Regions from separate parts of the Homo sapiens genome. Here all the other regions are linked to region 3. Evidence: fine-mapped expression QTL. A gene starts in region 3. Each other region holds a variant in brackets. All regions are shown on one strand. Distances are between the middles of the regions. Region 1 overlaps OSBPL7 (oxysterol binding protein like 7). Region 2 overlaps SKAP1 (src kinase associated phosphoprotein 1). Region 3 holds the start of SCRN2 (secernin 2).

Evidence for each region. PIP is the estimated chance that this variant, and not a neighbour inherited with it, causes the effect.
Region 1: its variant is fine-mapped to the expression of SCRN2 in whole blood (INTERVAL, PIP 0.94).
Region 2: its variant is fine-mapped to the expression of SCRN2 in whole blood (INTERVAL, PIP 0.94).

What each region holds. Positions count from the first base shown.
Region 1 is chr17:47,800,567-47,808,756 of GRCh38, forward strand. It overlaps OSBPL7 (oxysterol binding protein like 7), which reads right to left. Exons shown (of 23, transcript NM_145798.3): 22 at 7,972-8,094; 23 at 6,806-7,833. The coding sequence ends at 7,725. Among named protein-coding and RNA genes, the nearest start is that of OSBPL7, 17 kb to the right of the region's middle. RefSeq lists an enhancer at 7,834-8,190. The variant A/T (reference allele first, on the strand shown) is at 3,761.
Region 2 is chr17:48,162,263-48,170,476 of GRCh38, forward strand. SKAP1 (src kinase associated phosphoprotein 1) reads right to left here. Exons shown (of 13, transcript NM_003726.4): 11 at 207-307. Among named protein-coding and RNA genes, the nearest start is that of MIR1203, 9.9 kb to the left of the region's middle. The variant T/C (reference allele first, on the strand shown) is at 3,331.
Region 3 is chr17:47,836,375-47,844,474 of GRCh38, forward strand. SCRN2 (secernin 2) reads right to left here and starts at 4,899. Exons shown (of 8, transcript NM_138355.4): 1 at 4,834-4,899; 2 at 4,296-4,469; 3 at 3,817-3,998; 4 at 3,070-3,269; 5 at 2,417-2,632; 6 at 2,157-2,322; 7 at 1,896-2,076; 8 at 1,318-1,628. The coding sequence starts at 4,469. The coding sequence ends at 1,470. LRRC46 (leucine rich repeat containing 46) reads left to right here. Exons shown (of 8, transcript NM_033413.4): 7 at 1-101; 8 at 376-1,345. The coding sequence ends at 746. RefSeq lists enhancers at 361-908, 4,368-4,467, 4,371-4,926, 6,749-6,798.

The DNA of each region.
Region 1 (8,190 bases), 36 kb before region 3:
AGAAAAATCTAATATTATAAGAAAGAAAAATTAGTGTCCAATTTCTTTCATAAGCATAGATGCAGAGTCCACGTAAATTATTAGAAAATTGATTCCAGTGACACATAAAAGCGATAATACCTCATGACCAGGTGGGTTTATTCAAGAAATGCAAAGGTATTTGAAAATAAAATACCCTTGTGGGGCCTTCGCCGCTCCAGGCACAGGCGACCGAGGCTGCGGCATGGCACGTCCCTCCGGCTTGGGCATCTCTGGTCCTCAGGCTCTGCCCCACAGCCACTGGGCCTGCTGCACCTGAGCCAGTCTGGTTGGGTGGCCGGGCTCTGTCCCATCTGCTCCTGGGAGGCTGACTTTCACACCCGCCTGCCTGCAGGCACCTCGGGACCCATGTGTCCCCCGGCCACATCCCATCCTGGGGCCACCCTATGTCGGTCCCAGGTGTGGTACTTGGGGGCAGGTGCCATTTCTGCCCCCTCAACCTGTATTTTTGCCAGCCTGGGACTTCCTGCCCTTCCAGAACTTTCTGCCCCCTTGTAGCTGGAGATGTCTCTCCTGTGTGTGAGCTTCCCACAGCCTGAGCCTCCTTAACTGGGGAGGGGGATCAGTCACCTGACAGACACAGGATGCTCAGTTGTCTCAGGAATTGATGGTGAGAGGGACCACAGAGATAAGGGGTGCAGTCCCCTCCCCTTTGACCAATGGCAGAGCCCCCAGCCTTTCTGGGGAGACACTTTGCATCCTCCTATTTTTGGCAAAAGTCTCAGGAGAGTTAAGGCACCAATTGGTGTCTGCAGGTTCACACGCTAAACTCTGCTTCTGTCTCTCTCAGGGGGAATTGCTGCTGCCTTGGGAAGGCCCCCAGGTGTGGGAGTGGCAGAGCTGGTGGTGACCCTGGCCCAGGTCATCTGAAGCTACCCTTGTCCTGTGCTCCACAGCTAAAACAACCCTCAGTCCTCTCTGTCCTATGACAAACAAGACACCGGTGAAGGGGTAAGGCCAGCAGCATCATCCCCAAGCTACAAAGGAGGAGACTGAGGCTCAGGAGGTGAAAGGAATAAATGACAGAGCCAGGGCCAAAACTCAGGATTCCTAGCTCTTGGTCCAGGGCTCTTCCCCGCCCAGGCTGCATGGGAGGTGGTGGGAGGTGAATGTGCCAGCCTGTGAGGGCTGCGGCCCACTAGGCCCAGCTTGGAGGAGAGTGTCTCTCTTGGGCCTGTAACATCTTGCTAAATGGAGGAGAAGGGAGGGAAGGCCAATGTGACCTGCCTTCCGCATCTCCCACCTTCGCCCTCCCTCCTCAGGGTCCTAGGTCAGATGGCTTCCCACAGAACCCAAGGCTTCTCTGCTAAACTGGCACTGGCTCAATAGCTCCCTTCCTTCTTGTCCTCATTCTCATCCCTCCCAGGAGGGCACCGTGGACACTCCCTCCTTCAAACCATGTGTGCGCGCACACACACACACACACACATACACACACACACACACACACACACTTCACCCAACGTTAGCCTACAGAACTAAATGCAGGGTTTCCCATCCCAGTGTGTGACGGGCTCTGGGGTGACAGAAGCAGGAGAGGTTCTAGTGGAAACTTAGGGAAAAGACCATCTTATGAGGGCTCTGGAGGAGGGGTGTCCTGGCCAGCTGTCCTTGGGAGGGATGTCACCTGGACGTGAAGAGGCACCAGCAAAGGGGGCCTGACCTCCTTCCCCCAGACCATCTGGGCAGCTTTTGGGAGTGGCTAGGGACACCTGGGTCTCCCAGAACAGGGGTTTCCTGACTTGTGCATTCTCTTTGAAGATGAAGATGGGCAGGCAGGGATGGCCGGCAGTCCATAGGAATGCGGCTGTAACAGTGTCTGCTGCTGCTGTTGATCACTGCTGGGCTGGGTCCAGCCAGGGCCACATCCTTGGAGGCCTGATACTCCACGCAGATGGTGGTGCAGCCACCTGTCAGCTGTCAGGTGGGGCTTGGGATGAGACTAAATTGGTTCTTTCAAGAGCCCGGGGTGCCCTCTTGAGGATGCCTGGAGAATCTCACCACCTTCGTCCTAGACAGACTGTGGCTGACTCTCAGGCTTTTCTCTCTTCTTCCTGCTCCTGCCCCGGCCCTTCCAATCTCTTCTTCACCCACACCCCTCCCAGAGCCCAGCCCACCCACCTACCCTCCTCTGGACAGATGCTTCATTTTGAGGGGCCTCTCATATTAGGGGTCAGCAAGGCCCAACATCCCCAGGGGCCTGGCATCCTGGACCATAGTGCCCATGGTTTGGACTTGCTCATCAAAGCCACCCCTCCACATACCTTAGGGCCTGGAGGCATCTTTCAGCAACCTGAAGACTTTGCACCATGTGATGACATGTGTTAATGAGACGTGGGCCCTGCAAGGTGGCTCACGCCTGTAATCCCAGCACTTTAGGAGGCCAACGCTGGAAAGTTGCTTGATCCCAGGAGTTTGAGACCAGACTTGGCAACATAGTGAGACCCTATCTCTACTAAAAATTAAATAAACAAACAAAAAAAACTAGCCAGATGTGGTAATGTGCGCCTGTAGTCCTAGCTAATTGGGAGGCTGAGGCGGAAAGATTGCTGAAGCCCAGGTATTCAAGGTTGCAGTGAGCTATGATCGTGCCACTGCACTCCAGCCTGGGTTAGACCCTGTCTCTAAAAGAAGAGAGAGAGAGACACGAGTAGTGCTCTAGAACCCCCAACCGTGGAGCCATGCTCTCCCAGCCCCTGGAACCACCTGCCTGAGTCCCATGCAGACCTGACTCTGGCCTGTCGGGATCTTGATAACTCTCAGTGTTCCCCTCTGACGGTAATGCCTCTTAAGGTACAGATGAGGAGAAGATGAGGGTATGTGTGGCAAGAATCAGGAAGACCAGTCCCTGGTCCACCACATAAGGCCAGGTGATCTGGTTAAGTGTCTGTACCAGAAATAGGTCATTGGATGAGCGAGACCTGGCCCAGGCCAGCCTGTGAATGTCTCTCTGAAGTCCTACACTGCCCTCCCTGACCACCTTAAGGGGAACAGAGATGGGTCCCAGGGGGAGAGTGCTAAGCCTCTCCTCCTTTTCTACCCCTGCTAGTACTAGAGGGTCTCTAAAAGGGGAAATCACTTATAAAACGTGTCCTTTGCAGTAAGGAGACACCATTAAACTAATGACCCAATGGCAAGGTCCCTTGAGCATTCCCTAAAGAGATTGGATATGGCCGGGCAATGTAATCCAGGATCTTTAAAATGCCTGTGTCAGAACTGGGACTAGACCAGGGCAGCGTAGAATAGGAGAGCTGTGCACCATTCCAGGGGCAGACTGGAGCCGGTGGAATTGAGGTCGGACGTAAGATCTCTGCATTCTCAGCAGGTGTTGGTCAGGGGCTGGGGGTTACCCCACCACTGTCCCCACTACCTTCATTTTCCCCGAAACAGGGAGGGTGGGACTCCCCTGCACACATCCCCCTGGGCTGCATGCCATCCAGGTGAAGCTGGGAGTCACAGTGCTGGCCCAGCAGCCTCCTCCTGCCCTGAACACCCCTCCACTTTGACCTCATGGAGGGAATGTGAATGCCTGGGCCTCTCACCTGGTTCAGCACTCTTTCCCTTCTCTGTTTATTACACACACACACACAAACACACAGACACACACACACACACTTTATTCAGAAGATGCAAGGAATTGGGGGTTTTATTTATATTTGACTTTTTTTTTTTTGCTCCTTCCAACCTAGGTGTCCCTATCAGCTATTCAATAATGATTAAT[A/T]AAATTTTTTAAAGTTACTTAAATCCCTCTGGGTGGAGCAGTTTGGGGGTGGAGGGTCCAAAGAGGCAAAATGAGGACTGAGACACCTCCTGCCTACCTTCCTCTCCCTCTGCCAGCATTGCTTGGCCTGACCATTTCCCTTGCTGTCCAAGCTCCATCCTCCTTTGCTCATCCAGGGAAGCGGATCCCTGGTTCTCCAAACTACTGCACTCCAAGCCTAGTCAAGGGCCATTAAGCCCCCAAATTCTCCCCTTTGTCCCAAGCCCACCATGTCCTCCAACCAAGGCAGGAGATCTGGGTCTGTGCTTGGCTCCCCACGACCCAGTGGTAATGAGTACTCCTGTGGGACATCTGGACTAGGCTGACAGGCTTGAGAAGGGGGCCCACCATTCCCTTCTCAGATCAGTGACTTGAGCACCCCACCCTGGGATTCTTGGCAGCCAGGAGCTGGCACCGCTCCCTGAACCCCTGGCTGGTGTGGGCCCCTCACACTCTGTCCATGGAGCACAGACTGGGGCCAGAACCCCAGGCTCCCCTCAGCCTGGCCTGAGCTCCCATCAGCGGTGACCCACAAAGCCCTGGCCAGATGGGGAACATTTCTGAGACCACAGTCCTTCAGATGGGACTGCCCCCTCATCTGCTGGGCCCCAGAAGAAGCAAAAACAACCTTACCCACCACTTCCAGCTGTTGAGGTGGCACCTGGGCTGTGCCTGGGAAAGGACTTGGGGGAGGATGCTGGTCTAGAGGGCACAGCCACAGAGGCAGAGGAGTTTTGAGTTTTTTTTTTTTTTTTTTGTCTCCTCTGAAAAAATAACTTGGGAATTTGGTCTCTTTTAAACTCTGGTTCTCTCTTTTTTTTTTTTTTTTTTTTTTTCTAGATGGAGTTTCACTGTGTTGCCCAGGCTGGAATGCACTGGCACGATCTCGACTCACTGCAACCTCTGCCTCCTGGGTTCAAGCAATTCTCCTATCTCAGCCTCCCGAGTAGCTAGGATTACAGGTGTGCACCACCACACCTGGGTAATTTTTGTATTTTTAGTAGAGATGGGGTTTCACCATCTTGGCCAGGCTGGTCTTGAACTCCTGACCTCGTGATCCACCCGCCTCTGCCTCCCAAAGTGCTGGGATTACAGGTGTGAGCCACCGTGCCCAGCCTAAACTCTGGTTCTTAAAATACGTGGCAGTTTGTTACGGGCTGGTCGGTCAGGTGCTGTGGTGCTCTGAGGGGAAAGGGCCCGGAGCAGGGCAGCACATGCTATTTAAAAATATCCTGAATGTGTGAGGGCCTTGGCTTTTTTTGGAATGGGTTGAGGTTATTTCTGGCATGTGGTGACAGGACAAGTGTGTTCATTTTAACTTTGACATTCTCTGTAAATAAACTGGAAATGTGGACCACTGCTCCTCCGCAGGGGATGAGGAGGAAGAAAAAGATGACAATGCGAAGGGCTGTCGTAGCTCAGGGGTCCCCTCTGTTCCTGCCACTCTGCCACCCCCCCAAAGAAAGCATGACTTCCTCTTGGGACACTCATCGGACCAGAGCAGGACTGGGGTCGCTGTTGCTGCAGGTGGTGGGGTGGGAGTGGGGGAGAGGGGTTAAGAGAGAACGAATGAAATGAGGAGCCTGGGTCACCTCACAGATGTTCTTCTTTAAGACACAAAAGGAGCCAAATGAGAGACTGAAGCCTCTAAACAGAAGGGGAAGGCAACCTGACCAAGATCACACAGCTTCAGAATCAGAGCTGGCCCCAGGGGCGAGGGCAGCGGGGAGGAAAGGCAGCTGGTCCTGTTCTTCCTCCCTCCCTTCCGCCCTTGAACACTCATTGATCCTGGGGGGTCAAAGTGGAGTACTAGCACAGACCTGACTTAGGGTGCTGAGTGTGGGGGCCAGCACTCTGTGCCAGACAGGGGGCCAGGGGCCATGTGGTTTTTCTACCGGTTGAAGAGTTTGGATTTTCCTCTAGGCACTGGGAAGCAGGGGATGTATTTTAAGCAGACATGAGGTGTCACATTTTCTCTTGAAATACCGCCCTGGAAGCCAGGCGCGGTGGCTCATGCCTGTAATCCCAGCCATTTGGGAGGCTTAGGCGGGCAGATCACCTGAGGTCGGGAGTTTGAGACCAGCCTGACCAACATGGAGAAACCTCGTCTCTACTAAAAATACAAAATTAGCCAAGCATGGTGGCATGCATGCCTGTAATCCCAGCTGCTCAGGAGCTGAGGCAGAAGGACTGCTTGGGCCGGGGAGGCATAGTTGCGGTGAGCTGAGATCGCGCCATTGCACGCCAGCCTGGGCAACAAGAGTAAAACTCTGTCTCAAAAAAAAAAAAAAAAAGAAGAAGAAGAAGAAATACCACCCTGGAGGCCACCACAATAGTCCAGACAAGTGTTGATGAGGGCCCAGCCTAGCCAGTGCAATGGAGAGAAGGGGCCAGTGCAGAGAGACACCTGGGGTAGAAGTGACAGGGCATCAAGCGGGAGGGCAGATGGCCTCTGGGCTTTTGGCTCAGGTTAGTGGTGGCTGTATTCAATTCCTGAGGTTGCTGTAACAATGCACCACATATTGGGTGACTTAAAACAACAGAAATGTATTCTCTCATAGCTGAGGCCAGGTGTGAGCAGGGTTGGCTCCTTCTTGAGGCTCAGTGGGAGAATCTCTCTGTTTCTCTCCAAGCTTCGGGTGGTTGCCAGCAGCCTTGGCACTTTTGGCTTTCAGATGCATCGCTCCCATCTCTGCCTACGTCTCCACGTGGCCGACTCCCGTGTGTCTGTTTCACACACTTGTCTTCCCTTGCGTACGTCTGCGTGCCCAAATTTCTCTCTACTTATAAGGAGACCAGTCACTGGAGTAGGGCCACCCAAATCCAATGTGACCTCATTTTAACTTGTCTCTGCAAAGACACTATTTGCAACTAAGGTCACATGCACATGCCTGGGGGCTAGAAACGTTTCTTGGGGACACAATTCATTTTACCCATGACAGTGGCAGAGGGCTTTCCACTGACCATGAGCCCACATGTTTTTCAATGAATGGTCACAGGCCAAAGTCTGGGACAGTCTTTATTGGAGCTTGGAATGTCATAGCAATTCGCCCTCATCAGAGGCAGACTGTGAGAAAGAGCAGCGATGTGGTGGACCCCCAGCAGGGGGAAGGCGGGGCTACATGAGGGAGCCCTGCTTGCCTGCAAGCAGGGCACAGGCGCACACGCATACACTCTCCTACATGAACTTACACTCACACCTGCGCACTCGCTGCCGGTGGGTCAGAGGACAGGTGCCTTGGGCTGCTCCCCTCCTCATGGAGAGGCCTCCTCCACTCTGGGGGATCCGCTGAGCTGAGACGGGAGGGAACCGCTTGAGGATCAGGGACGAAGGAGCTGGAAGCTGCAGGCATTTTGCAGTTAGGGAGAAGGGATCCAGGACAGGAGGGATGGCCAGGGACTAACCAAAGGGAGCTGGAGAAGGCCCTGCAGGGCCAGGGAAGGGGAAGAAGATGCTGGAGATGGGCAGAAGGGGAGGGAGAACAGATCACCTCCTCTCCTTCACTCACTGCAACCTCACCGCTGGGGACAGAGGCCTGGGCACAGAAAGCCTGGGGAGCGTCAAGGAGTCCCCTGTGTCCTAGGAAGGCACTGAAATAGGGAACAGATCCTGGGAGCCAGAGTCTCCCCCAAGTACCCCAAAGGGGACAGGAATCGGAATGGTGAAGCGGGAAGGGTCTTACATGCTGGTTGTCTGGGGCAAGGAGACTGGGGAAGCACAGATTCTGCTTCTCACCCCAAACGGTGGGGTTGGGGGTGGGCTGAGATGCAGACCCTCTGGCCAGCAGAGGGGAGGGAGGGCCAGGGCTGCCCCTTTGGTCTCAAGGGCAGTGAGGCGGGGAGCCCGGCCTCACCCATGTGTCCATGGTAGGGGGTGGAGGCAGGAGGAGTGAGGAACCAGAGCCTCCTGCCCCCGGGGCCAGGGCTACCAGAGCACGGCCCCATCCATGTTCCCATAGCCTGGCTCGGCCCGCAGCCTCCAGTAGGTATTGTTGGTCACCCACCACTCTTTCCCGCTGCTATCCGTCTGCCGCCTGGTGGGAGAAGGCGGTGGCAGTGAGGGGTGAACATCTAGAAGGCAGGCTAGGGTCCTAAGGTGCTGCCTCCCACACCTGCCCTGCTCCAAGCAGGGCTCATGGGGAGACCCAGGGCGGAGGGCGAGGCCGAGGCACCTGAAGAAGCGAGCCTGGTGTACGATGTTGTTTTCCTCCATGACTTTGCGCCTGTCTCGCTGCAGCTGCTCGATCCTTCTCTTCTGGGCCTCAGCGGCCTGTATGTTCCCCTCCTCCAGGTACCTGAGGATCCAGATCAAACTCAGGGGAACTGCCCATCTGCAGGGGCCCCCAAACCCAAGGCCTCTGTCTCTGCCCAACTCTGTCCTCTAGACAAGC
Region 2 (8,214 bases), 330 kb after region 3:
GCCTAGCCTTGTATTTTTAAATGTGAAAATGGTTCCTGAATCTGGATTTTCATTTAAAACTTTTCCTAACAATTATGAATAAATGGGAATTTATATTGTGAGGGAGCCATGGGAAGTGTATGACATGGAATAATTCTGTTTATGGTGACTAAATCAAGAATGAAAAAATTGACTTTCTATTTAAGCCCCACACTTTCTGTCCTTACCTTGCTCAGAATACGGATGAGGTCACCCCGTTGGAAGGACAGTTCATCTGGCTGGTCACCATGGCAATCCCATAGGCCCTGGTAGTAACTGGCATAGTCTACTGATCAAAGAGAGGAGAAATCAAAGTTAAAAGGACTCTATTTTTTCCGAGGTACCCATGTTTTTGCTGCAAATGGAAACCAGGGTTCTGATATTGCCCCTAGGAAACCTCAGATTAAGGGGAGTTGAGATGAGATACAGCCAAACACTCAGCATGAGCAAAGGACTATGGGAGAAGGAGATCATTAACTAACATTAAATATTTACAGATCACTCCTAGTAGGATGCCGTTCAACAATATGATAAATATATTTATTTATTAATAAAAGAAAATCAGGCAGGTAATTTTTCACTTGGTTTGTAAGTAAGCAGTGCAGAGGTTTCCCGCCAGACTTTCCTGATCCAGGGCAACTAACTATCTAGTTTTTCTCTTCATTATGCATTTGAAGGATCAGAGTAAATCTGTGACTTCTGCCTATTTACAAGAAAGGCTTAGTCAGCCAGCAGGCTTCTGGATCACAGCTCACTTTTCGGCCTTCTTTGTCCATAGGAACTTTGTCCTGGGAACTTCCCACCTAGGTACTATATGAGGTAATCACCAATAAATACTGAAACGAATAGCCCAGTCTTTAAGTGGAACCAAGGGGGTGTCTCATCCATTACAACTAAATTCTGGGTGGGCTGGCCCTTTTCCAGCATCTCATTTGTAGACCTTGAACATGTCTGCCAAGATTTATCTGCAAGCCCCAGGGGAACAGAAACCAAAGTGATCTGCATTAAAAATGAAAGCAACTGAAGACGACAAACCAAGCTTTAGAAGCAGCTGGAGAGATTTACTGAGCTTCTCAGCAGAACTAGATGGCAATGATGCCACAGGACAGCCATCGATTCTTAACAATGAAGAATTTGTATTGATCTTCTACCCGGAAAGGTTAAACACTAGAGTACAAAGTGGGAGAGGATCTGGGGATTTGAATGGCAGGAGAGCTAATGCCCACTAGACCAGGCATGCTCCTTTTTCCTTGGGGTGCTCTGTATCAGAGCTGTGAACAAAGCACCTACAAAAGATGAAATTCAATAGATGGGAGTCAGGAGTCCTGGGTTCTAATTAAAATTCACATGATTTTGGGGGACTCTGTTCTATAGATTTCCACCTTTCCCTTTATTCATTTTACCCTCCCATGAGCAGTGATAGTATTGGTGGCTGAGGATAGGGCAAGTGGGCAGTAGGGGCACAGACACCCTCCCTATATTTGCTTTTTTTCTACTTATTCCTGACTTACGAGCAATTTAAATAATAAAGGCACGGAGGGACAAAATCCCTATATGTCTCTGGAAGAGAATTTTGGTAGGAATCTTAAAGGGTACAAAAACAGAGGAGGGAGAGAACTATTTAGTTAAAACTCAGATATTGCAAACAAAAGTAAAAATGTCAACCATATAGAAATTCAGGCATGTTTTCTTCACACATAAAATTGTCTGTGTGTGCAGTAGACAACAGAGGGCAGCAAACAAGATAACTACTGTGAAAACATTCTGCCACAGAGTTGATAATATGTTTGGAAGAAAAATACTTTGGGAGAAATATGTTAGTTATTGAATAGACAAAGCATTCATTTTTGGAAATATTAAGTACATGAAATAATAGAGAAATATCAATCCCTGAAAAGTGAAAGTAGTTTTCCCAGAGGATATATTATGAATTTTCCATTTTAATGGAGTTGATTAATTACCCCAAGATTTTGACTAAACTCAGGAATGAAAGAATATTAACATCAATATTTTTCATGGATTTATATATGGTAGAGAAAACCATTTTTGTAAAAATAGATTCTAAAACCATAACAATATTTCTAAGTGGTAAGGAGACTAACAAGGTTATCTTGGTCTTTTCTGGCCTAGCAGATAGTCACTTTGGAGTACGGTTCCCTACTGTGTGCCTGGATATGGGATAGGTCCTAATATTGAGTGCCTTTTTGGTGTATACATAAAAAGTGATTTGACATTGGGTATATATGGGCCTGGGAGAACATCTGGAAAAAGATCTATTCTAAAAGCACAAAAGATCACAGGGAAAGCAAGAAGCTAGGAGAAAAACAGAAGCCTTCCAGGAAAAAAATAAAGATAGAAAAGGTCTTTGATATTAAAGGCCAAAAGAAGACAGAGTTCAGGAATCCAGGAGATGGTTTAGCTCAGCCCAAGAATAGGGAACTTCAGTCAGAAGTAGAACAGCTCCAAAAAAACAGGCAGAATGAAGGGCTAAAAACTGGGAAAAGTTTGAACTTGCTAGCTAGCTAGAAGTATTCTCTATTAAGGAAATCAGTGAGGGATAATTCCTTAGCTGGGCAAGGTGACTCCATATTGCAGACTTCCTGTTTAACACACATGTGATATGCATTTATGTGTATGTGTGCATGCAACTTCACTAATTCATTCTCATCATCCAACAGACATGTATACAGTACCTACTAAATGCCAGGGACTGTGTTAGATACTGGGAATCCCACATTGGCCACACATGAGCCCTCCTCTCAAGGGTACCTTCTAGTCGGGGAAGCACCATGGAAAAAACAGTTACACAAATGTTTATTTATGATTATGATATGTCTGTGAAGGAGAAGTTGAGGACGCTGTGTGTAATAGGGAATCTAACATAGTTTGAGGGGTCAGAAAAGGCTTTTCTGGCCAAGTGGGTGTTAAAGACCTTGAAGAGGGGAAGAGATAAGTTGGAGGAGGGCTTCATTCCTGAAGCTTGGCACCAGGAAGAGCTTAAAAGCCCAGAGTCTGCAGGGCTAGTCCAGCTTCTCCCTAAACCTGCCCAACTCATCCTATAAACAAGAGAATGCATGAGGAGACTTTGCTTTCTTTTCTTTTCTTTCTTTCTTTCTTTCTTTCTTTTTTTTTTTTTTGAGGCGAAGTTTTGCTCCTTTTGCCCAGGGTGGAGTGTAATGGCATGATCTCGGCTCACCACAACCTCTGCCTCCTGGGTTCAAGGGATTCTCCTGCCTCAGCCTCCCGGGTAGCTGGGATTACAGGCACGTGCCACCACGCCCAGCTAATTTTGTATTTTTAGTAGAGACGGGG[T/C]TTCTCCATGTTGGTCATGCTGGTCTTGAACTCCCGACCTCAGGTGATCCGCCCACCTCGGTCTCCTAAAGTGTTGGGATTACAGGCATGAACCACTGTGCCCGGCCGACTTTGATTTCTGTAGAGCAGAGAGAGGAACTGAGAGCCCAAGGGTGAGGCTTGCCTCTATGGGCTGGATTTAGATTCCTTTAGGCTTACACTACTCTGGCAGCCGTCTGAAATCAGAAATGGTGCAGCATTCTGACCATTTAATTAATTCAAAACATCCTAATTCTCATTTTAAGGACATTATTCCATCTAATTATTTTTTTTCCAGTCTGTCCATTTGGAATGAAAAACAAAAGAATAAAGCTTAATGCCAGCATTTCTCAATGTCTCTCCGAAAAACATAACTCTGCACTAAATAAAGCCTGGTAATTCAAAAGCAAAGCACTAATATATTCAGCATAAAACAGACAGAGGACCTAGAGCAATAATGACACCACTAATAACTAAAACAGTTATAACAATTAACAACAATTACAATGATAGAGAAGCTAATGGGTATGATCACTGCATTTAAATTGCTAGCAGAGCTGAGAAGGGCTTTTTCTAGAGAAAAAAAAGCAGCATCTTACTCTCTTTATCCTATGTAAGGGAAGCTAAACTCCAAGCAACCAAAATGTCATAAGAAGAATAGCAACAGAACAAGTTAAAAAAAAGTATTGGTTTCTTTTTTCTATTTATTGCAAAGCATTTGTCATTGCATGCCAGGTTCTTTACAACTAGTGACAGTCATTTCTCTTGTAACTGAGGCCAAGTTGGTGCTACTGATGATAGAGTCAATGGCTGAAAATTAGCCTGTGTGACGAGCAAAGTTTTAAGGTAAAAAGGACCAGGACATCTCTCTGCCTTTCTCCTTCCTTAGGGACAATAAAATCTGACTGTTCCTTCCACAGTTCAGCTTATGTTTGGGAGTCACTGGGTAGCGACAGAATTCAGGCTGTGATCAGGGAAAAGTGGCTAAAGGCAGGCCAGCATGTTATTTACATTTTCTTGATTACTAAAATGATCGTGTCAATAAGGCCTGGCATTGAGTACAACCTCTTAAGTTATGGAAAAGAGAGACAAAACATGAAGATGGATAAAGCCAGTCCTACGAGAGGATGGGATGGTAAGACTTGGACAAAAAACGCCAAAGTAGTGACCCATTGGAAGTGACTTGAAATGTTCTTTAAGCCAGGTCAGAAAGGTCTAACATGTTGAGTTCATTCAAGTAAACTCTGACAATTTTTCCTTTTTTTTTTTTCTGAAATAGGGTCTTGCTCTGTCACCCAGGCTGAAGTGCAGTGGCACAATCATAGCTCACTGCAGCCTCGAACTCCTGGGCTCAAGCTATCTTCCCCCTGCAGCCTCCTGAGTAGCTGGGACTACAGGTGCATGCCACCACACCCAGCTAATCTTTTTAATTTTTTGAAAACACAGGGTCTCACTTTGTTGCCCAGGTTGATCTCAAACTCCTGGGCTCAAGCAATTCTCCCATCTTCGCCTCCCAAAGTGCTGGAATTACAGATGTGAGTTACTGCGCCCAGCCTTGATAGTTTATTAACTATTTCAGAAGAAAGCTATGAAAATATTTGCCAAGCCCCCAATGACTGTGGCACCAGAGGAGGAAGAGCAATTGGATAATACCATTTGCTTATTTCATAGCCCTTTAATCTTGAGTTTTGAAATTACTATGATCTTAGTGGTATAAGTATGATTTGGAAGTGGGGTATACTCAGATTCTGATTTTCATGTCATTTCCTCTTTTCATTGGGCCATAATTTTAGCTGGTTAATAATCAGCTCATGTTTGGTCTTGGAAAACAGGCTTCAAAAGGTAAGAGCTGCAAACACCTCTGTGGTTTCCCTTTGTTTCTTTCATGTAGTAGTTCACTCTATTGGCGCGCACTAAAGTGAGAAGGGGGCCTCAGAGATGGAATGGTATAAGCAACCATTTTTTGGCCCTCCTAAAAGCAATCATTTGCTTATAAGACCACAATAGTGTGGTCTGTGTCTCCTTTTGGCTTAGTTTTTCCACAATTTCAGAGTTGGGGTTGGGGGCAGACTGAAGGAGGTACGGGTGGGAGGGGTCTGTTTCAGGTTTTCCTTGGTCAGGGATTTTATGTATCTAAGGATGATTTGTGCCTCCAGGGTTGCTTTTTATTTGACATAGCACATGCAAACAAATGGCCAGTAATTTCTATAAAAAACGAACACAGAGGAAGTTTTATTTTTGGTTACCTGGAGGTTACCTTTTCATGATAGGGAAAGGTGATAAGTTCTCATTACCTAAGACCCTTAATGTTAGACTACTGGGCTGATGGGTTGGAATTTAGTGAAACTCTGAGGTGTTGAAGAGTCACTCATTAAAATAACCCTGTTACTAACAGTCATGCTGTAAACTGAGCTCTTTATAGATTGAGCAATCAATACTACAAGGCTGTGATAGATTTTCTAGGTAACAGAATGAAATAAAAGAAATTACATCTTACAGGGTCATTAACACTCAATAAGGATGAACCGAATCCCTTCCCCCCTATTCTGATAAGATCTAGTTAGGCCTTCAGAATGTTAGCAATTCCATCAGAGAAAAAAGCACAGCATTCAAGGAACAGGATCCATCGAGGTTGGAGAAAAGTACTTGGATTTTAAAAGTAACTCTGCTAGCCATAGCATCTTTTGGGAAAAAAGGAAGAAGGGAAAGGTCAACTTGCTTATATATATTTTTCTCCCCAAAAGCATGTTAACACCTGAGAAAAGGCTGGGCGTGGTGGCTCATGCCTGTAATCCCAGCACTTTGGGAGGCCAAGACGGTCGGATCCCCTGAGGTCAGGAGTTCCAGACCAGCCTGGCCAGCATGGTGAAACCCTGTCTCTACTAAAAGTACAAAAATTAGCCAGGCGTGGTGGCACGTGCCTGTGATCCCAGCTACTCGGGAAGCTGAGGCAGAAGAATCACTTGAACCTGGGAGGCAGAGGTTGCAGTGAGCGGAGATAGCGCCATTGCACTCCAGCCTGGACAACAGAGCGAGACTTCATCTCAAAAAACAAACAAACAAACAAAAAAACACACACCTGAGAAAAACTAAGTAGCCCAAACTTGTGTAGCTTGTCTATGACATAGGAATTCACACTGTCCTAGAGCTCCCTGCCTTTTAAATGCCTTCACTGGGGCTGCCTGCCCTTCCCCCAGACCTCTATCTTTTATTGTTACAAAACTAAATGATGACATTTGGATTTATGTATTTTTCACCATTTCTATAGCGCCTTTGGAGAAAAGGCAGTATATAAAATCAATCGATAAATAAGTAAACACAAATAATAAAAATTCCTGCCTCAGATTCTGCAGAGAGAGCAAAAAGTCCTCCTGTTTTTTAATCACTAAGTCACCAATCATTATAACTGGTGGGAAGTGTAAACCATAGAAACATATTCAGAGCTTGCTATACTTTAACAACACTTATTTTGGAGGCAGGAAGCATGAGGAACAAAAGGTTTTTTTTTTTTTAAACCTACTTGAATTATAGCTGTAGGAACAGTTAAGAAATAAATCTCCTCTCACCTCCCAGATATAACCTTAGAGAAAGAGGTGGAAGGAGGAAATGAGATGAGGGAGGAGTCTGAAACTGGATTCTAGACTTTGCTAAAAGATCAATGCTTTCTGAATGGAGTTTAATATGAAATTGGCCATAGGAAGCTTACAGTTACTCCACCCAAGCTGTCCACATGAAGTGTTTCTTTTCTGCACTGGTGATGGAAGTTGGTTGAGAAAAGATATATGTGGAACATGGGCGGGTCAGAACAGATTTTCATTTGGAATTCTGTACAGTAAGTAGACAACAGAAGGAAATAGGTTTCAGAATGGACCTAATCACATGTGTTCACTATCATGAGGTACTTGCAGCTACACTCACATCCGTGCATCACACCCGCCTCCACTGCTTTCTTTCTCTCCTGCTTTGGCGCATGACTTCTGAGGCTGCATCTTCGTTGTCTCTTCTCTTCCCTGGGAGAAGCTGGACCCTTAGGAAGTTGGGTCCTGAACCTTTTAAGTATTCACTTTCTGTAGAGAATGAACCTAGAAATGGGGGTTTTGCTGGATGGATAAGGAGAGAAGAAAAAGCACAAGGAAAGGAGAGAGGAGAATAGGAAAAGACAGGGCTAGATAATGGAGAAGGAGCAGGGAGGGAAAGAGGGCAAGAATTCCTAGGCTTAAGATTTTCATAGACTCCCTAAGAAAAATATCAGCCAGTATCTAAATCAGTCATGATTAGGGCTCTGCCGACGGAACGAATGTCCTTGAGGTGGCCCTTGCAATGTGCAGCATTCCTTTACTGACAACCATGGAATAGGTCCTTGGTCCACTTAAGGAGGCTTCAGAGGGGCATCTGACCTTAGAAAGGATGGGCTCACTAACAGCCTGAAGCATGGTTAACAGTCTGGGATGAATAAGATGTAATTTTATATTCAACAAACCTGTTACATATTCATTTCCAAATGTGCCTGGAATCAAACCAGGCTATCAGAAGTCAGCATCACCAAGGAATTTTATCTTTCACCCTGTGTTCACTTTTCAGATCTGACACATTTCCATTCCCCTCTGAACTTGCAATCTCCGGGCCTCTCAGAGAGGAGACATTTCCATTCTTTCCATTCTCAATCCTCTGATCTCTTAGAGATGAGGCAATTCTATTTTCACTGTACTGATATAAGAAATATTGATAGGAAAAAATAAATGTCTGGTTTGGCTTCCCACCCGCTCTAGGATAAATCTTGGCTGTTCTGGGAACATTAATTAAAGTGAATGTATGGCTGCTTTTAAAGTTTAGGTATTTCCCTACCCAGTCACTTTATTTAGGGCT
Region 3 (8,100 bases):
CGGGCAGCCTGTGGTGGAGCGCTGGATTTCGGATGAGGAGGATGAAGCCTCAAGCGATGAGGAGTTCCCAGAGCTGAGTGGCCCATTCTGCTCAGAACGAGGTGACCCTGCTTTCCAAGGTTTTCAGCCTCCCCAGAGCCCACCTCTGCCCTGTGGGACATGAGGGAAGCTAAGGTGGCAGTGGCGTCCGGGGAGGGGAGCCCCAAGTTCAGATCAACATCTGGGCCAGAGCCAGGTGTCAGTCCTGGGCCCCAGCCTCAGGCTCCTTCCCACAAGGGACAAGGGGCCAGCCAGAGACTTCCCTGAGCCCAGGGACCCTCCTGCTGAGCCCAGGGCTCCACCCACCCTGTACCCTCCACCCCCGGCCCCTCCCAGGCTTCCTCAAGGAGCTGGAGCAGGAGCTGAGCAGGCACAGGGAGCACCGGCAACAGACGGCCCTGACAGAGCACCTGCTGAGGATGGAGATGCAGCCCACCCTCACCGACCTGCCCCTGCTACCTGGGGTGCCCATGGCTGGGGACAGCAGCCCTTCTGCCACTCCTGCGCAAGGGGAGGAGACAGTCCCTGAGGCCGTCTCCTCACCCCAGGCCTCCTCTCCCACCAAGAAACCATGCAGTCTGATTCCCAGGGGCCACCAAAGCTCTTTCTGGGGAAGGAAGGGGGCACGAGCAGCCACAGCCCCCAAGGCCTCTGTGGCTGAGGCCCCCAGCACAACCAAAACTACGGCCAAGAGAAGCAAGAAATGATTCTCTGTCAACCTTTCTCTACTAGTGGAGAGGAGTGGGGCCTGCCCCTCTTCTCAGACCTCTGACCTGTGACAGAAGCCCATCCCCAGTAAAGTGTCTCTAGGCCCTGAGTATGCTTTTCATGTCACTTGGGGTATCTCAGGGGAAGAAACCAGTGAAAGCTCCAGGAAACAAAATACAGAGCTCAGTGAGCCACCTGATTCTAAAGAGCGAGTCTGGAATCTTTCGGGAGCTACCCACAGGGCAGGCATGCCTCAGGCCCCCGCTGGCTTCCTGGCTCCCACTTGGGCAGGAAGCGGGCACCACCTCATGGAAGAGGCATGCCATCTCACTGCCACCCCTAGCGAGTGCCCTTCCCCGGTCCAAGCCAAGGACCAAGGAGCTGTGGTCCTAGTCATCCCCAACAGCAGCCAGCTCCTGTCCCCTCCCTGTCCTCCTGCCCAGTCCCCATCACTCACCCACTCATAGGAATGAGTACACAACCACAGGCCCCGCAGCCAGCCCACAGCTGCCTTTGGGCCTCACTTGGCTCTCCCACCCCCACTGGTCCTGGGATAAAGTTCACTGAAGAGAAAATAAAGCACATTTATTAAGGCAAAGGCCAAGCTGGCCGCTCAGAACATGGCCAAGGAGCGTGAAGGGATTGCTCCACTTTACCACCACTCAGGGCACCCAGGCCCCAGGGGTCCTGGGTCCACCCCAGGCCAGCAGAAGCTATGAAGCTTACGCATAAGCCTGGCTCTCCCTCTTCACGAAGGCCTGGAAGAGGCTGCCCAGCTCCCAGAGGGGTGGGGCCCACTCGCCGGCCAGCAGCCCCTGTGTGGCCTCGAGGCCTTCCTGCTCCAGATCCTGCTGTTTCTGCTGGAGCTGCTGCCCCCGATCCTGCCCCAAGGGAAAGCTGAGATGAGTCTGTCCGGGACAGGCTTCCCGCCAGGTGAAGGGGGGACTGTGTACCACCTCACACAAGCAGGAGAAAGGAGATACCCCCCGACATTCCCCAAAGGCAGTTGCTGGCTTTGAAGGGAGGAACTCCTCTCCCCAGCTCTGAAATCTCTTCCACTCCCTAGTTCCTTCATATTTCCAGAGTCCCACTGGGAGTGGGGGAGGTCTATCATCCCCTCAAGGTAGCCCCTACTCCCTGGGGGATACCTGATCTCTCTCCATCAGCCCCAGGGCTGCCTGGTGTCCACGGTAGAGGGTATGCCGACGATCTACCTGAGTCTGGAATCGGGGCAGGGTCCGAACAGGGTCTTGTGCTCCAAAAGTGGGGGACAGCACCTGGGGGGCCTGGGCCACCCCCATCCCGAAGATGAAAGGTTTGAACACAGACCTAGAGGGGCACAGATGGAAGCACGGAGATATATCAGATCCTCTCTTCTCCCCAGCCTTCCCCACCCTCATTCTTCCCACCTGGATGGGTCTGGCGTGGCGGTAAGAAAGTGCACGCAGGGCTGCGTGGGATCCTGGGGCAGGACAGACACCATGCTGGCCGTGGTGCGAAAGCCTCCCGAGTCCATACAGATACCACTCTCCTTGTCTCTGAGGATGCCCATCATCACCTCTGCCGTGATGCCCCCTGCCAAGGAGTAGAGGGGGAAGCTGTGGGAGGGGAGAGTGGCTGGCACTGCTGTGGCCCTCCTGGCCCCCAGCCCCCTCCACCGTTCACTAACCTTGCCGTTGCCGCAGCAGCTCCCGCCCTGCCTGGAAGCGGGCCTTGGCAGCCTCCATGCGCACAGGCTGCTGGGTCAGGGAGAAGATCTGAGCAAAGTCAAAGGCACCCTGCCCATCCCACCAGCCCTTGGCCTGGGCATGAGTCCGCAGCTCCGGGTGTTGGGCCGAGATGTCCGTGCCAATGCTCAGCTGGTTGGAGATGTTGCGGGCCCCCTCTGTGGAGGAGATCGGGGAGTGGTTCATTTACCATTGAGCATCTATTCTATGCCAGGCACTGGGCGAGGTGCTGAGAACATGGTGGAGAAGAGAACTACCTACCCTCATGGAGCCTACGTTTTGGTGGGGGAGGCAGACAAAATAATCACAGAGATAAATGTAAGCATGCAACTGTGTTGAATGCGATGAAAAAGAAGTACCTGCTTGCATATAAGCAGGAAACCTGACCACCCAGGGAAGTCCAGGAAGGCTTCCCAGAGGAAGCAACAGGCTGTAGCACACGGAAGACTTAACCAAGTGAAGGGGAGGAGAATTCCCAAGTGGGCTCATCTCCCATCTCCCTGGATGTCCTGACAGGCTTGCACCTGGATCGGGCCCCTCCCTGCCCCTACCATCTCTCCCACTTCCCAAAGCTGGGAGAAAGGGAACACCTCACCCTGGATCCTCTGTGCAGCCCAGAGCCTCCCAGCTGTCTCCAGCACCCACGCCTCAGTGCGGTCAGCCAGCAGGAAGGTGCTATGGTAGGAGAATGGCGCAGCATCCTCCAGGCAGTTGCCCCCCTGCCCATAGTGCTCCAGTAACCCTGTGATCACATGCAAGGCCTCCTGGGCAGAGCTGCTCCGTTCCAAAGCCAGCCTGGCAAAAGAGAGGGCCAAGGGACAGAAGGGTGACAGAGGGATCAATGGCTGGTGGCAGAAGCTCCAGGGGACAGAAGAGGCCCGGAGAGGTTTGGTGATAGGCCCAAGTCACACAGCAAATCTGCTGGCACTGATCGTATCAAATGCAATTATGCCAGTGGCTTTCAATGCTCTGGTTCCATGTGCTATGCTTTGAGGGTTCCATGAAAAGGCCTGAAACACAGTTTCAGAGAGAGAAGTGTCCTGAGCCCCTAACCTCTCTCCACCCAGAGCTGCTCCATCCACTATTACTGGTTTTATAAATTGGGACTCTATGTAAGATTTCAACTGAAAATAAATAAATAACCACTGCTCTATTTCTGGGCCAGGAGAGGCCCAAAGGTGGCTGCTGCTGCAGCCTTCTTCACGAAGGCACAAGGGCAAAGTCTGCAGAGAGGAGGAGGCCCCTGTGAACCAGGCTGGGGGAGGGATGGATGGGCCCAGGTCAAAACTCAGCCCCTAGATTTCTGGTGTGTCAGGCAGATGAGGAAGGGCAGGGTCTGCACCTGAGTAGGTCCATGCCCAGCAGGGCTTCCCCCTCCCCAACTGGCTCCTTCGTCCACACAGCCTCGTTGCCAATGCAGACACCATGCTCGTTGGCGCCCATCTCAGCCCCCCATAGCCAAGAAGGACGGCTCAGAATCACAGCGTGCGTCTTCGACACCTGTTCCACTTCAATGTAGGTGCACTGGAGGTGAGGGAGGAGAAAGGAAGCGTCCACTCATAGAGGGGCGGCCCCTCGAGTGTGGCACTCTGCCAATTACCTTATAGATCCCTTTGAGGAAGGTCTCATTCCCATTTTACAGAAGAGGAAACTGAGGTAGACTGAGGCTACATAATGAGCTCAGGTCCAGGTTGGTAGACCTAAAGCTCATGCTCTTCCACTACTTCTGGCAGCCTCCCAGGTGTGGGGAGCAGGGAAGAAGGTCTTAAAAGAATGCAGAGATCTGCCACACCTCCCAGCACCCCATAAAGTCTAACCCACCTGGAGCCGGCTCCCAGGAGTGTGAGTGCCTGCGGGGACAAACACCACCTCCTGCACCTCGTCCCGGGGTCGGTCCGAGTTCTTGGCAAAGATCACAGCCGGGATGGCTGAGGCCGGGGGCACGGAGACAAAGCAGTCGCAGGAACATGGGGAGTCAGGGCTCGACGACGCCATCTGGGGAGAGGCGGGCCTCTCCATAACCCTGGCCACGGCTCAGCCCCGAGGAGCAGCCTACCCCCACACGTGTAAAAGACGCGCAAGGAAGACACCGCCGTGGCTCCTGGACGCTCGGCGCACACACCATGGACGGGTGTGCGGGAACGGAGGTGCCCACCCTCTCCCCAGGCTCCAGGCTTGGGAGTCCGCAGGCGGGCACTCCGGGGGTCCCGCCCCCACTGGGAGTCCCGGCCCTTCGGAGCAGTCGTGGGACCGTCCCCCTCGCTACCCCACCAAGAGTCCTGCGGCCCTGCGCATGCCCAGATACCCGACCCTCTTCTGTCCAACCCTTCTCTCACCCCCAGTACTGTATTCCCCTCACCCTCTCTTCCTCCAAGACCCCAGCTCGGTCCCGGGTGCCACCTCCTCCGCTTCTGGCCAGGGCCGCCCCATTGGGCGGAGACTCTCAGGTGACCTGGAAGGCCTTCGGCCTCGGGGTCGGAGCCGGAACGGAGCCTGCAGCTCCGCCGTTTTCCACCAGGGCGCGCGCCTGCACCACTTCCCGGAGCAGAGCGGCCTTGCGAGTCCCACCTGGCTCCCTGTCCTACCCAGGCGCCCATTTGAGGCCTGACAAAGGCTGCTAACCCCACGGAGTCACTGCGGGGAGCTGGAGCTGGGGGTGGAAAGGATCCCGCGTGAAAAGGGAGACTTTGTCAGAGAAAGGGGACTGCTGGGACATCTGGAGATTAAGGAAGAACCTCAGATACTTGAGTCCTGGTTTGAATCCCAGAGGCGCAATCCCAGGCTGGAGGCGCCTAGGGGAATAAGATACAGAATACGAGAGTGGTGGAGGCTGGGTGCGGGGGGCTCGCACCTGTAATCCCAGCACTCTGGGAGGCGGTGGTGGGAGGATCACTTGAACCCAGGAGTTCAACACCAGCCTGGGTAACACAGCAAGACCTCGCCTCTACAGAAAATATTTTAAAATTAGCTGGGCGTGGTGGTGCGTGCCTCTAGTCCCAGCTGCTCTGAAGGCTGAGGTGGGAGGATCTCTTGAGCCAGAGAGATTGAGGCTGCAGTGAGCCAAGATCACACCGCGGTACTCCAGCCGCGGTGACAGAGCAAGACCCTGTCTCTTAAAATAAATAAATAAGGGAAAGTGTGCACAAAACCCATCTGATCCCAGAGGACCTATCTGTCTGATAGTGCTCAAACCCATAGGAAGATCGCTTTAAAGGGAAATTTAGAACTTTCTAGTTCAAAGATTTGGTGCCTTTACCTGTAGTGAAACTGAAACCACAAAGAAGTCTTGGCCAAAGGTGACACACAGTCATGTGGAGGTACACTCTGATCCCAAATGTTTTGATTTTCAGTTCATTTTTCTCTACAAACCATCTCTCCATAGCCATCATTAAGACAAATGCATCTTACACCCTTTTGCTCTGTGGAGCCCTCCAGAATGGAGAGAGGGGAGATGCTGCAGGTTATCTGCTTCTAGGGGTTGCACTGAATCTATAGATGGCTTTGAGTAGTATGCACATTTTAGCAATAGTAATTCTTCCAATCCGTGAGCATGAAATATCTTTCCATGTCTTTGTGTCTTCTTCAGTTTCTTTCATCAATATCTTATTTTCAGAGTACAGATCTTTCACCTCTTTGGTTAAATTTATTCCTAAATATTTTATTATTTTGGTAGCTATTGTAAATGGGACTATTTTCTTGATTTCTTTTTTGTATAGTTTGTTATTAGTGTATAGGAACACTATTGACTTTTGTACATTGACCTTGTATCCTCTGACTTTACTGTATTTGCTTAACAATTCTAACAGTGGGCCGGGTGTGGTGGCTCATGCCTGTAATCCTAGCACTTTGGGAGGCTGAGGTGGGCGGATCCCCTGAGGTTGGGAGTTCAAGACCAGCCTGGCTCACGTGGAGAAACCCCATCTGTACTAAAAATACAAAATTAGCCAGGCGTGGTGGCACATGCCTGCAATCCCAGCTACTTGGGAAGACTGAGGCAGGAGAATCGATTGAACCTGGGAGGCGGAGGTTGCGGTGAGCTGAGATCGCGCCATTGCACTCCAGCCTGGGCAACAAGAGCAAAACTCCGTCTCAAAAAAAAAAAAAAGAAAGAAAGAAAGAAAGAAAACAATTCTAACAGTGTTTTAGTGGAGTTTGGCCTTCTTTCAAGCCTACTGTGCTAGGGTGCTGGCGGTCAGTCATGCTAGGATTAATGGGAAGGTGAAGGCTGTTTCTGATACAGTGTCGGGGAGGGATTGTGAGGTTGCCAATTAATGTCATTCCAGAAGCAAACATCGAAGCTGCGTGCTGAGAAATCTGGGCACCTGAAGCAGCTTGCAGGAAGGCGGGTTCATCTCCTGCAGTTTCCCGGCTTCCCACTGTGGGGCGGAAACAGGCAGGAGGAGAGGCAGAGAGAGGCCACAGCGCACCCCCAGGTTGCAGTTTCCAGGCTGTCTTCTTCTCTGTCACTTTCTCATTTCTTATTTCATTCACCCACCCTAGAGGTTAGGAGTAGATTCTACTTCCACTTCCCAGGAGAGGAACCCAGAGAGCCAGCCCAGATGTTCTGATTTCCCTAACCCTTTCCTGGGCCATCCATGATCCTCCTGCCAGGCACCCCATCTGAGGGGGGTCAGAGGTGGCTTTGGGTTCCGTCGTGGGGGGGATGGGGGGCAGGCCAGCCAGGCAGCATTTCCAGCAAGGAAGCAAGTGTCAGAGCCCCACCAAAGGCCCCTGCTAAGAATGCAGGTCAGCGGGAGGAGCTGCATGGGGAGGAGGGGTGGCCCCAGCCCTGCCCAGACAGGCCCAGCCGGCCGCACAGCTGCCCTCCTGTCCCTGGGGGCAGCGATGGGGGTAAAGGAGGAGGGGACTCACCAAGTTCCTGGGGTCTAACTCCCCTAGAACCAGGAAGACAAAAGAGGCACCTGGAGGAGTGGGGCTGGCATAAGGTCTTAGGAAAACACACCTGTCCTTCCTCCTCCCAGCCTTCTAAATCTAGCAGCAGGTGGAAACAAAACAATTGGCCCCAAACCAGTCTGGTTTCCTCTACAACCCCTAAATCATTCATTCTGATGCCCCTATCCTAAGGTAGCCATAAAGGTTGTGACCCCAGGATCCCAAATTAAGTTATGGGATGGGCCAGCCTGAGTACCAGATTTGGCTTCGAGAAATTGGGTTAGGGTTAGAGTGGTGGATCTAGAAATCCCACTAGGGGAAAATAATACTTTTGGCAAAAAGGTAGAATGAGAAGGTGAAAGAACATAGTAACCCCCGCCCCCCAGCCCCCTTGGAGCCCAAAACCTATCTTCTGTCAACCTTCCTGGCTTTGGGGCTCTGGAATCATGAGGCTTTCTACTCATTTGATGTGAATTAGGCACCAACTTTGTATCAAGCACTGGGAGGCCTGGGAAGATGTGTACAGATAGATATTTCTGCATATCTCTGGGGGCGGGTGCACGTGGGTCCAGTGCGGGTATGTTTGTGTGCCTTGTGGTTGTGTAACCATGGTGGGTCTCTAGCTGTGAGCTACAGTAGGAGCCTTTCCCTCATACTTTCCAGCTGGGCAGGAGCCCATCAGATAGCTCGGCTGCCTTTCATCGCCTTGTCCCTGATAAGGATCATCCTGGGT